Linked DNA regions of Homo sapiens. The protein of the gene in region 2 interacts with the protein of the main gene of each other region in a biochemical or structural test. Each region holds a gene or a part of one and is shown on either strand. Other genes may lie near its edges.

What was found. The genes of interacting proteins can lie anywhere in the genome.
Region 1: the proteins of SLCO1C1 (region 2) and MPP3 interact in a test that uses a peptide from one of them, tested with the Homo sapiens proteins (one large-scale study listed by IntAct).

Annotation. Positions count from the first base shown.
Region 1 is NC_000017.11:43,801,559-43,806,445, forward strand, and holds part of MPP3 (MAGUK p55 subfamily member 3), read right to left. Parts: intron 320-4,887; coding exon 143-319; 3' UTR 1-142. UniProt on the Homo sapiens protein: Participates in cell spreading through the phosphoinositide-3-kinase (PI3K) pathway by connecting CADM1 to DLG1 and the regulatory subunit of phosphoinositide-3-kinase (PI3K). Stabilizes HTR2C at the plasma membrane and prevents its desensitization.
Region 2 is NC_000012.12:20,732,772-20,737,658, reverse strand, and holds part of SLCO1C1 (solute carrier organic anion transporter family member 1C1), read right to left. Parts: intron 4,751-4,887; coding exon 4,555-4,750; intron 553-4,554; coding exon 387-552; intron 1-386. UniProt on the Homo sapiens protein: Mediates the Na(+)-independent high affinity transport of organic anions such as the thyroid hormones L-thyroxine (T4), L-thyroxine sulfate (T4S), and 3,3',5'-triiodo-L-thyronine (reverse T3, rT3) at the plasma membrane.

The sequences.
Region 1 (4,887 bases), on a different chromosome or scaffold from region 2:
TCCCACTTATACTCTTCTCGATGATGGAATTTGTGGAGAATTCTCTCCCTCTCTGCGCTTGAGATTCCTTGATGGTAAAATGAGGGAGTCTGGACTAGATGATCTTCAAGGTCCCGTCCAGCTTGGATGTTCTGGGATAAAGTTACCTGACCCAACTAACAGGTACCCAGTGAGTGTCCTTGCTCAGCTTCTCTAAGACCACTTTGAGCTGGCTGTAGGCACCCTGGAGATCCTCCTTCACCAGCACGGCGTCTACCAGGTGCCCGTAATGCCGGTCTATGAAGGCGGCAGAAGCGGCCATCTCTTGCTGCTGCTCATCCTGCAAGGAAAGGGGTGGTAAAAGGAGCAACTGGGTTGTTCTCCTATAACAAACCTATAACCTTTGTCTTGAGCAATGTTCCAACCTTTAACTTTTAAGTGATGAGTGGATGACTAGGTCCCACTGATAACCAACTGTGTACACAAGAACAGAGCATAGGGACAACATCATGTCAAACTTCAAAGAAAGTTAATGGGCAGTAGACACAATCACTGTTCAGTCATTCACTCACAGAATACCTCCTGAGGACCTATGAACTCAAAGCCACGATAGGAAGTGCATTGGGGATGCTGATTCTATAACTGTGTATATATGCTAATATCACACTTCCTGCCTCAGAAGTACTTCCAAAGAAGTAGTAGTATTGTGCCGCATGACATTCAGTACACAGGTTAAATAATTATAAGAAAGAACTATAAATAATAACTATATAAAAACAGAGCAAACATTTCTGCAATCAACTGGTGGAAGAAGGAGAAGAAATCATTCTAATGCCCTCCTGAAGACTCCTAAATTCACAGTGCAGAACTCAATTCACTTCCTCACACCAGAGCCAAACACTAGCACAGCAAAGTGGAGTTATTTAAGAAAGCACTGGACAATTCTAATCAAATTCCCCATTTCCTTAGGGCAGCTGATCTCTTTAATCAGATTGCTTTTCTGACACTTAACATTAAGGTATAGGCAACAACTCCATCTTACACAATGTGGGCACTGTTTGCATCTTCATTCAAAAGAACCTCTAATAAGTATTATTTCAAGTGAGTAGTTGTCTGACAATTAGCCTGGTTTTGGAAAACAGGAAAGTGGCAGGCCCATTCTAAGTAAAATTACAAAATAAAATTTGTCGCTGGCATTCACTCACTGCCCTTTTTAGTTCTCTGTTGCTGTCTCCCCTCTGCTTCTAGGGGCTCAGTGTTTTCATGCTGCCACAGGGAAAGGGTGAGTTCTGTTCTCTCCCAAAGAGACCTACATTCCAAATATTCCCCCCTCTTCTCTGTCACCAGTCAAAACCCAATTCCTACATTAGTGAGAGCATCTGAAATTTCAGGATTCGAGTCCTCAAGATCCAGGAAAAGGGTTTGGCATGCTACTTCAAAGATAGTAGAAATGTAAGAGAAGGCTGAGATAATTTCTTCTCCTTTTCTCCTCCAGGAGGGAAAAAATTCGATTAAATTGGGAGACACTTCTCAATTCTATATTCTATATAGAATATTCTTGCAGGGCTACTTTCATACTCAGAAGCCCTATCCCGTAACTGCCCCCGGATCTTCAACCCCACCTTCCCCACTCCCTGACACACACCCATCCTATAGACCTGTCTGCTGCTTCCAGTTTCCCCTCCTCCAGGCACCCACACGGTTCATCCTGGAAGCATTTGGCTATTTGAGAAATTACAGAAGGAAAATTTTTGCCACAAAGAACCACAATCTACCTAATAAATATCTGCATCTGGAAAGAACTTAAGTAAATCTCTAATGGAGTAAAAACGTGTGACATTTGCTTAGCAGTCATAAATCCCCTGAACTCCTTTCCTGGCCTGTAACGATGGAACTCGCCCACCTGTGTCTTCAGCAAGAGTCACAGTCCCGAAGATCACATAGGAAAGATTCCCCTGTGCTGTCCGTCACCCCCAGGTTGGATCAGCTTTGCCGGGTCAGAAGCCAGAAGCCCCATTAACTTGTGGTCAGCAAGGAAACAGAGGATGTTTTGGGTCCCCTACCAGGAACTCAGGTGCCAGACAATGGACAGATATTTAAAGTTACACAAAACCCATGCCTTTGTGAGGAATTTCTCCAAATGTCATCTGGGGTCTGCCAACATACATCAAAACCACATGAAAGGCTGTGTGTTAAAAATGGAGTGCCTGGGCCCCACTCCAAACCCCCTAGGTCGGAATCTCTGGGAGTAGAACCGGGGACTCTGTGTTGAACAGCCTCACTGTGACCCTGCTGCCTACTCACAGCTGCAGTGTGGTGGAGCATGAACGGGCCAGCTGCATTTCATCATCAGCCCACCTGCTTGGAATGCAGCATTCTGGTGGGCAATAAAGGAGATGGGATAGATGACAAAACCGGCCAGGCTGGAAGGACACTGGGAATAGAATGCAGCTGCTTCTCTTGAAATAACAACCATGGGCCAGGGAGGGTTCTGAATCCTAGAAAGCTGGCACTGCCTGTGGACCTGATGATTTGGCCTTGAGTCCTAGGAAGCTGCCTCTTATTCTCCCAGTGACTTCTTGACTCTTTGAAAAATGAGCCATTTCCCCCTGCTTATTCAATCCTGAAATATTTGCAAAACAAAACAAAGCCAATATAGTAAAACAAATGGGCAGATTGATCCTAAAATTCATATGGAAATGTAAAGGACCCAGAATAGCCAAAACAAGCTTGAAAAACCTGACTTCAAAACTTACTACAAAGCTAGTAATCAAAGTAAGACAGTGTGGTGCTGGCCTAAGAATAGACATGTAGACCAATGGAATGGGACTGAGACTCCAGAAAGAAACCCTTACTTTTCTTGCCAATTGATTCTAGACAAGGGTGTTAAAATAATTAAATGAGAAAATAGTCTTTTCAACCAGTGATGCTGGGGTAACTGGCTATCCACATGCAAAGAATGAAGTTGGACCCCTACTTCAGACAATCCACAGAAAATAACACAAAATAGATGACAGATCCAAATGTAACTGCTACAACTATAAATATCTTAAAAGAAAACAAAGGAGTAAATCTTTATGGCCTTGGATTCGACAATGATTTCTTAGATATGACACCAAAAATATAAATGACAAAAGAAAAAATAGATACATTGGACTTTATCACATTTTAAAATGTTATGCCTCAAAGGATGCTATCAAGAAAGTAAGGACCAGGCGTGGTGCCTCCCAGCACTTTGGGAGGCCGAGGCAGGTGGATCACCCAGGTCAGGAGTTCGAGACCAGCCTGGCCAACGTGGTAAAACCCCATCTCTACTAAAAATACGAAGGAAATTAGCCGAGCATGATGGCATGCGCCTGTAATCCCAGCTACTTGGAGGTTGAGGCAGGAGAATCACTCGAACCTGGGAGCTGGAGGTTGCAGTGAGCCAACACCGCACCATTGCGCTCCAGCCTGGGCAACAAGAACGAAACTCTGTCTCAAAAAAAAAGAAAGTGAAAAGACAACTCAGAATGGGAAAAAATATTTGCAAATCATGCATCTGACAAGGGACTTGTATCCAAATAGATAAAGAATTCTTACAACTCAATAACAAAAAATGGACATTTAAAAATGGACAAAGTATTTGAACAGACATTTCTCCAAGAAAGATATAAAAATGGCCAATAAACACATGAAAAGATGCTCAACTTCACTGATGATTAGAGAAATGCAAATTAAAACCACAATGAGATACCACTTCACACCTACTAGTAGTGCTATGATTAAAAAGACAGACAATAACAAGGGCTGGTGAGGATGTGGAGAAATGGGAACTCTTGAACACTGCTGCTGGGAATGTAAAATGGTACAGCTGCCATGGTAGAGTTAAACATAGAACTACCCTATGACCCAGCAATTCCATACCAAGGTATACACCCAAGAGAAATGAAAACATATGTTCACACAAAAACTTGTATATGAACATTCATAACATGATTCATAATAGCTGAAAAGGTAGAAACAATCTAAATGTCCATTAATCGATAAATGGGTAAACAAAATGTGGTACTCTATACAATGGAATGTTATTCAGCCATAAAAAAAGAATGAAGTATTGATACATGAATGAACTTTAAAAACATTATATTAAGTGAAAAAAGCCAGATACAAAAGGTCTTACATTGCATGAATCCATTTATATGAAATGTTTAGAATAGACAAATTTATAGTGACAGTAGATTAGCAGTTGCCTGTGGCTAGGAAGGGGCTGGAGGAAAACAGATAATGGGAAATTCTAATGGGCTCAAGGTTTCTTTTTGAAGTGATGAAAATACTCTTAAATTGACTGTGGTAGTTGCAACAACTCTGTGAATACATCATTGAATTGTATGCTTTAAATGTGTGAATTGTACAGTATGTAAATTTTATCTCAGTAAAGCTGTTAACTCCCCCTCCAAAAAACACACAGAAAACAAAACAAAATTTAGTCATGAGCCCACTATTCAGGGAGAATTGCCTTTAGCGTTTTAGTGTATTTTGTGTGTAACACAAAATTAGAATCCTGATTTTTTATTTTGATTTATTTTTTCTTGTATTTAGCTATGTCATCAAATATTCCTCCAACACATGGCTTTTATTTATTTATTTAATTAATTTATTTTTTTGAGACAGAGTCTTGCTCTGTCGCCCAGGCTGAAGTACAGTGGTGCAATCTCAGCTCACTGAAAACTCTGCCTCCCAGGTTCAAGTGATTTTCCTGCCTCAGCCTCCCGAGTAGCTGGGATTACAGATGCCTGCCACCACGCCCAGCTAATTTTTGTATTTTTAGTAGAGACGGGGTTTCACCATGTTGGCCAGGCTGATCTCGAACTCCTGACCTCTGATGATCCACCCACCTCAGCCTCCCAAAGTGCTGGGATTACAGGC
Region 2 (4,887 bases):
TATTTGTTCATTCCCTAAAACCTCCAAGGACCACGGATCTTAGGGCCAGGGGACATGGATCTGAAAGCATATCTTATTATGATGATCATACGACAGACATTCTAATTCAGGGCTAACACTTCTTATAAGCAAAATGAGAGAAATAGACTACATAATTACAAAATCTCTTCCACCCTATTTGATGACTCTAATTCTCACCCTAATTTTTTCAGCAACTCCAGTACCACTAGGAATGGTTATAACATTTTCTTTTTCTACAAAAAAGGACCAGGCAGAGGTAAGAGGCAAGCCTCCTACTAGTAGTGGTCTGCTGTGAGCCCCCATAGAGTTTTGTTGTTTATATTGTAACAGGACCATCGCCATATACTTGAGAGGTGATTTCTTACAATATTTTTTCCACTCCTGTTGGAGGTTTGACAACCAGCAAGACAAGCTGATACATATGTGATTCCATTTTCACCGCACATGGGTTCCCATTTTGTCTCTGAACATTTGCATCTTGAGTTGCAATCTGAAAAGAGAGCTCGTTCATGATAAGAGACAGGTTTGGTTCTGAAAAGAAATATAACAATATAAAATATTACCTCTTAGCAGGTAGCACCCGAATATTTTCAAAAAATCAATGTTCTTGAGTGATATAAATGATACTATGAACAAAATTTGCCTTTTAGAAACACAGTTGTCATCAGAAATGGCAGCTTCTGGTCATGAAATGTGAGTTTACTAATAAACAGCTTTCTCTTGAAAGTTATCTTTAGAGGTTTACAAATTCACATGATGTCCAGTTCTTAGCTTATAGCTTTCAGTCTACAGCCTCTAGGATCTTCTAATATACTTCTGTGCAAAGGTGTATAAAAATAGCTAACAAGGTAGAAAAGTAAACTTTTAGAGCAATTTATGACACTACTTCAATGCATCACAGGTGGGGTGTGTGTGTGTGTTGTGTGTGTGCAAATTTCATTCAGAATTGTTGTCTAAGTATGAGTGGAATGGATATTACTAATGGTCCAGTAAAAGGAAAAATAGCCAATCAGTTATCAGTTAATTCTCTTTCAGTGTTTGCAGGAGTTACATGTCCTCTTGCATGTGTGTAACCAACAAGTGCATTCCCAGTTCATTCAACCTTTCTCCTGTGTATCCTCCCAGTGTATAGTGCTCTTTCATATCTTATAGCATCCTTTCTTACTCAAATTCACAAGTAAGTTCAATGACTTACCCATTTATTTGTTGATAAAATTTTACTGGAAGCCTACTAAGTGCTAGCTCCGGGAGAATAGGAGATGGTTACAAACATTAATGAGACAAAATTTGCACCCCCCCCCAAAATTGGTTTTTTTGAGTTATTTCACAAAATTGTGATTGCATTCTTTCTTTTCTCCTTCATTTTTTTTTGTTCTCTGCCATTCGCTTTTATATTTATCCTTCATCTCTCCCAGTATTCTCTCTCCCTCACTTTTTTTTCTGTCACCTGAATGGCCTAATCCTTCTGCTTTTATCCTTTTTTTTGCTATTCATATTCCTCTACTCTTCTCAAAAGGAACTTTTGCAATGGTATGTCATTTCTATCTGCACCATATGTGCCATTCATTGGCCCTCCATACTTCATTTTTTCTGCTCCTTATTTTCAAATTTATTTATTTGCTTATTCCTCATATCTTTCCTCCCATTTTTTATAAAGATAGCTGAGGAGCTTAAACAAACAAAAAATACACTGAACTGTACAATCAAGAGAGGCAGGAACTATTTTTGTATTCACTCCCATATGTCCAGAACCAGGAATAATTCCTGTCACACAGCAAGCTAAGAAACAAAATTTCCAGTAAGTTAGTCAATTAAAAAATGGTACTTTATTTTGGAGAAATAAATTAATCACTTGAGCCTCTGCCTCTGAGAAGTATTGTCATTAATGATGGCAACCATAATTTCTTAATCAGTGTAATACTTCATCTAGTAGAACTGGTATGATGAATTTTGTCACCTCAAAAGTACAAACCAAAGACCTCTGAGATGTCTCCAAATAGTGTGAAAGGGTACTGAACTAGGCCTTCTGAGATGTGCTATAGGAATGTTTAATCCTATTCTCTTCCATAAAATTTTAATTGTTAACTGAGACTGTTTGTATTATCTGAAAGTATAAAACTGCCTTTTAAAGTCTAGAATCATTTAACTCTGGAAACTGTAGGGCTGAGATTATAGAAGGTTGGAGCTGGAGGGAACATTGGAGTAATCTATGCCAACCTCTTACTTGGCAGATCAAGGAAGTCAGCCCCTACGTGGGTGGGTAACATGCTCAAATTCACACTGCTTGCTAGTGACAAACCTGGAAACTGAACCCTGCCAGGTTTCTTGATTGTAAATTCTTATGTCCACATCAGAGTTGTCCTTGTTATTGCAGAAGAGAGATTTCTTCCATTATCATATCTAAGACTTGTCTTCAGTTTTCCTATTGAATATTCAGGTCAAGACAGCGTTTGGAATAAAGCAACATGGAAAAACCCATGGGAAACATTTTATATTTTATAAAGAAAAATACTTTATAGTATTGAAAGTTTAATTTATCATCAGGGGCAGGAATCATTGGGATACATCTTTTCTGAAGGATGTGCTGACAGTAGATTTGTAATTTAGAATTTTAATTATAAGACGAGTTTTAACAAATATGCCAGAATGTTTATGCCCAAATGAGATTTCCTTTCAAGATAGTTATGCTGAAAGATGAGAGCTTTTCCTTAAAGGTTAAATCTTTGCCCTTGTTAAGAATATTCTCAAAAATATACAAAGAAATTCAAAATAAGAGTCTTAGAATATTTTAAACAACAGTAGCATTACTGCAATACAATTATAGTCTTTCAAGGTGACTCCTTTGAAGAGGCTAGTACTCACTCAATGAAAATGTTACCTTTTATTTGTTTAAAATATTTAATCTTTGATTATGTAGGAATACTTTTAATGGGAATCTCAAAGTTTGCTTTTGTTGTCTGCTTTGTGTTTACTTTTGGCTTAGAAATTATGATGCAGAAAGAATGTTCTACTTTGAGTCACGCCTGTGTTCAAACCCCAGATCCATGCAGTTTCTTTTAAACAAGGATAACAAAACTAAACTCATAAAGGTGTTTTGAGGATATAATGAGATCATGAAAGTTAAGGTGTTTTGGAAATCACAAACTATAAAGTCCTCTACAACTGTCCCTCTACCGTGAGGATTTCTGGGACAGTTAAAGATGGCACTGGGCTTCTGCTCTCTCCAGAATCATCTTCCATTTCATTGTTACAACTAACATTCTTAATCCATATCACTGACTTTCACTAAGGCAGCACTACACTCAGCTGAGTCTAACAATGTGGCTGTGATAACTCCCAGAAGCCGTAATTTATGAACTTTGCATTCACCAATCTTCCTGAACATTGTAGATGGCCAAAACTATAACAGGCGCTCATTTAGCAGCAGATGAAACCAGGTTAATAAAGGTGATGGAAGTTGGAACATAGAGACAAGACAGATAAGCAGGGAAGCAAGAGTAGGACGGGAGATGGACAGCAGGCTGTAAGCAAGAAGCCACAGAATAGGCAGGAAACAGAATATAGTGTCAGGAGTGTTTGCTTTTGAGCCACAGGCAGAGTTTCAGGTGGCCAGGCAGATACAGTTGGGAAGGCCTTCCTGGCACATGATGGAGACTCGATAATTTTTTTAGAAAACAAATAATGCATATATAGGTGAAATGATGAAGAAAGTTACCTCTGGAAATTCATGTGAAGTGGTAGAGTGATGGGAAAGACTCTCAATGGGCAAGGGCAATATAGTTCCTACAAGATTCAACCTTGTATTGAGAGAGACTCTGGAAACCAAGCAATGTAATCACCCACCCCATACAAGATGAGAGGCCTGAAGGCATCACTAAATATTCTCCTGACCAATTGCAAGACACTCAGCTAAAGAGAACTTTTATGGGGAACACTGGGTTGAAGGACAGGCGTTGTTTCCTGAAACTTTACATGATTCAAGCACAACAGCAACTATGGAGGATTGCAAAGAGGTAACTCCAGTTCCTCAGATGTTCAAAGGAGGAAGAAAACAATTGTTTCCATGAATGGCACATTTAGCTTGTGTCAGGCAAGTAGCATTCACTTTCATGTATGTTAGCTTGCTTAAACCTTACAAAAGTTTAAAAGGTAGTTATTACTTCTGTTTTTAAGATGGGAAAATTGAAGTTGGATTAGTTTAAACCACATGTACATCATTTCATTAAGAATAGACAGAGGCATTATTCAAGGTTTGTATTTCTGCTATCATGTTGTTTTTCTAAATTAATCAGGTTGGTTCTCTAGTGTAAAATATGGGTTTAGCAATTTTTATATTTCTCTACAATCAAAGGAGATGATAAATTTTGGTGACAATAACAGATTCTAGGTATTGTCAGTTATTCCACAATAAAATACTAAGTTGCTTACCATAGTTATGATGTTTAAAAATCAAATTCCTTTTTTGCAACTCCACCAATAATTGATTTAATTAAACAAACCAATATCCTCAAACTATTTAATGAGGGAACATACCCTTGGTAGGAGACAGTTAGTCCTGCCACATCAGAATTTTCACAGCCCAGTGCAAACAGGGAAAGAAATAGGAGGTAACCAAAGACAGATGATCCCAAGTAGAGTTTTGCAGCTCCACACACACTGATTCTGAATTTTTTCATAACTATCCCCCCAGAGAATATTCCAAGGGCCACTGCTGGAATGTTGATGAGCCCTGAGAAACAAGAAAAATATATCATTTTGTGAATCTCTAAAAAAGATTTGAGTGTACTAACACAAACTTTCTAAAGACTATTTTGTCACTTTAAATTATAGAAATAGTCACTATCATCTACTGACATATACAAAGAG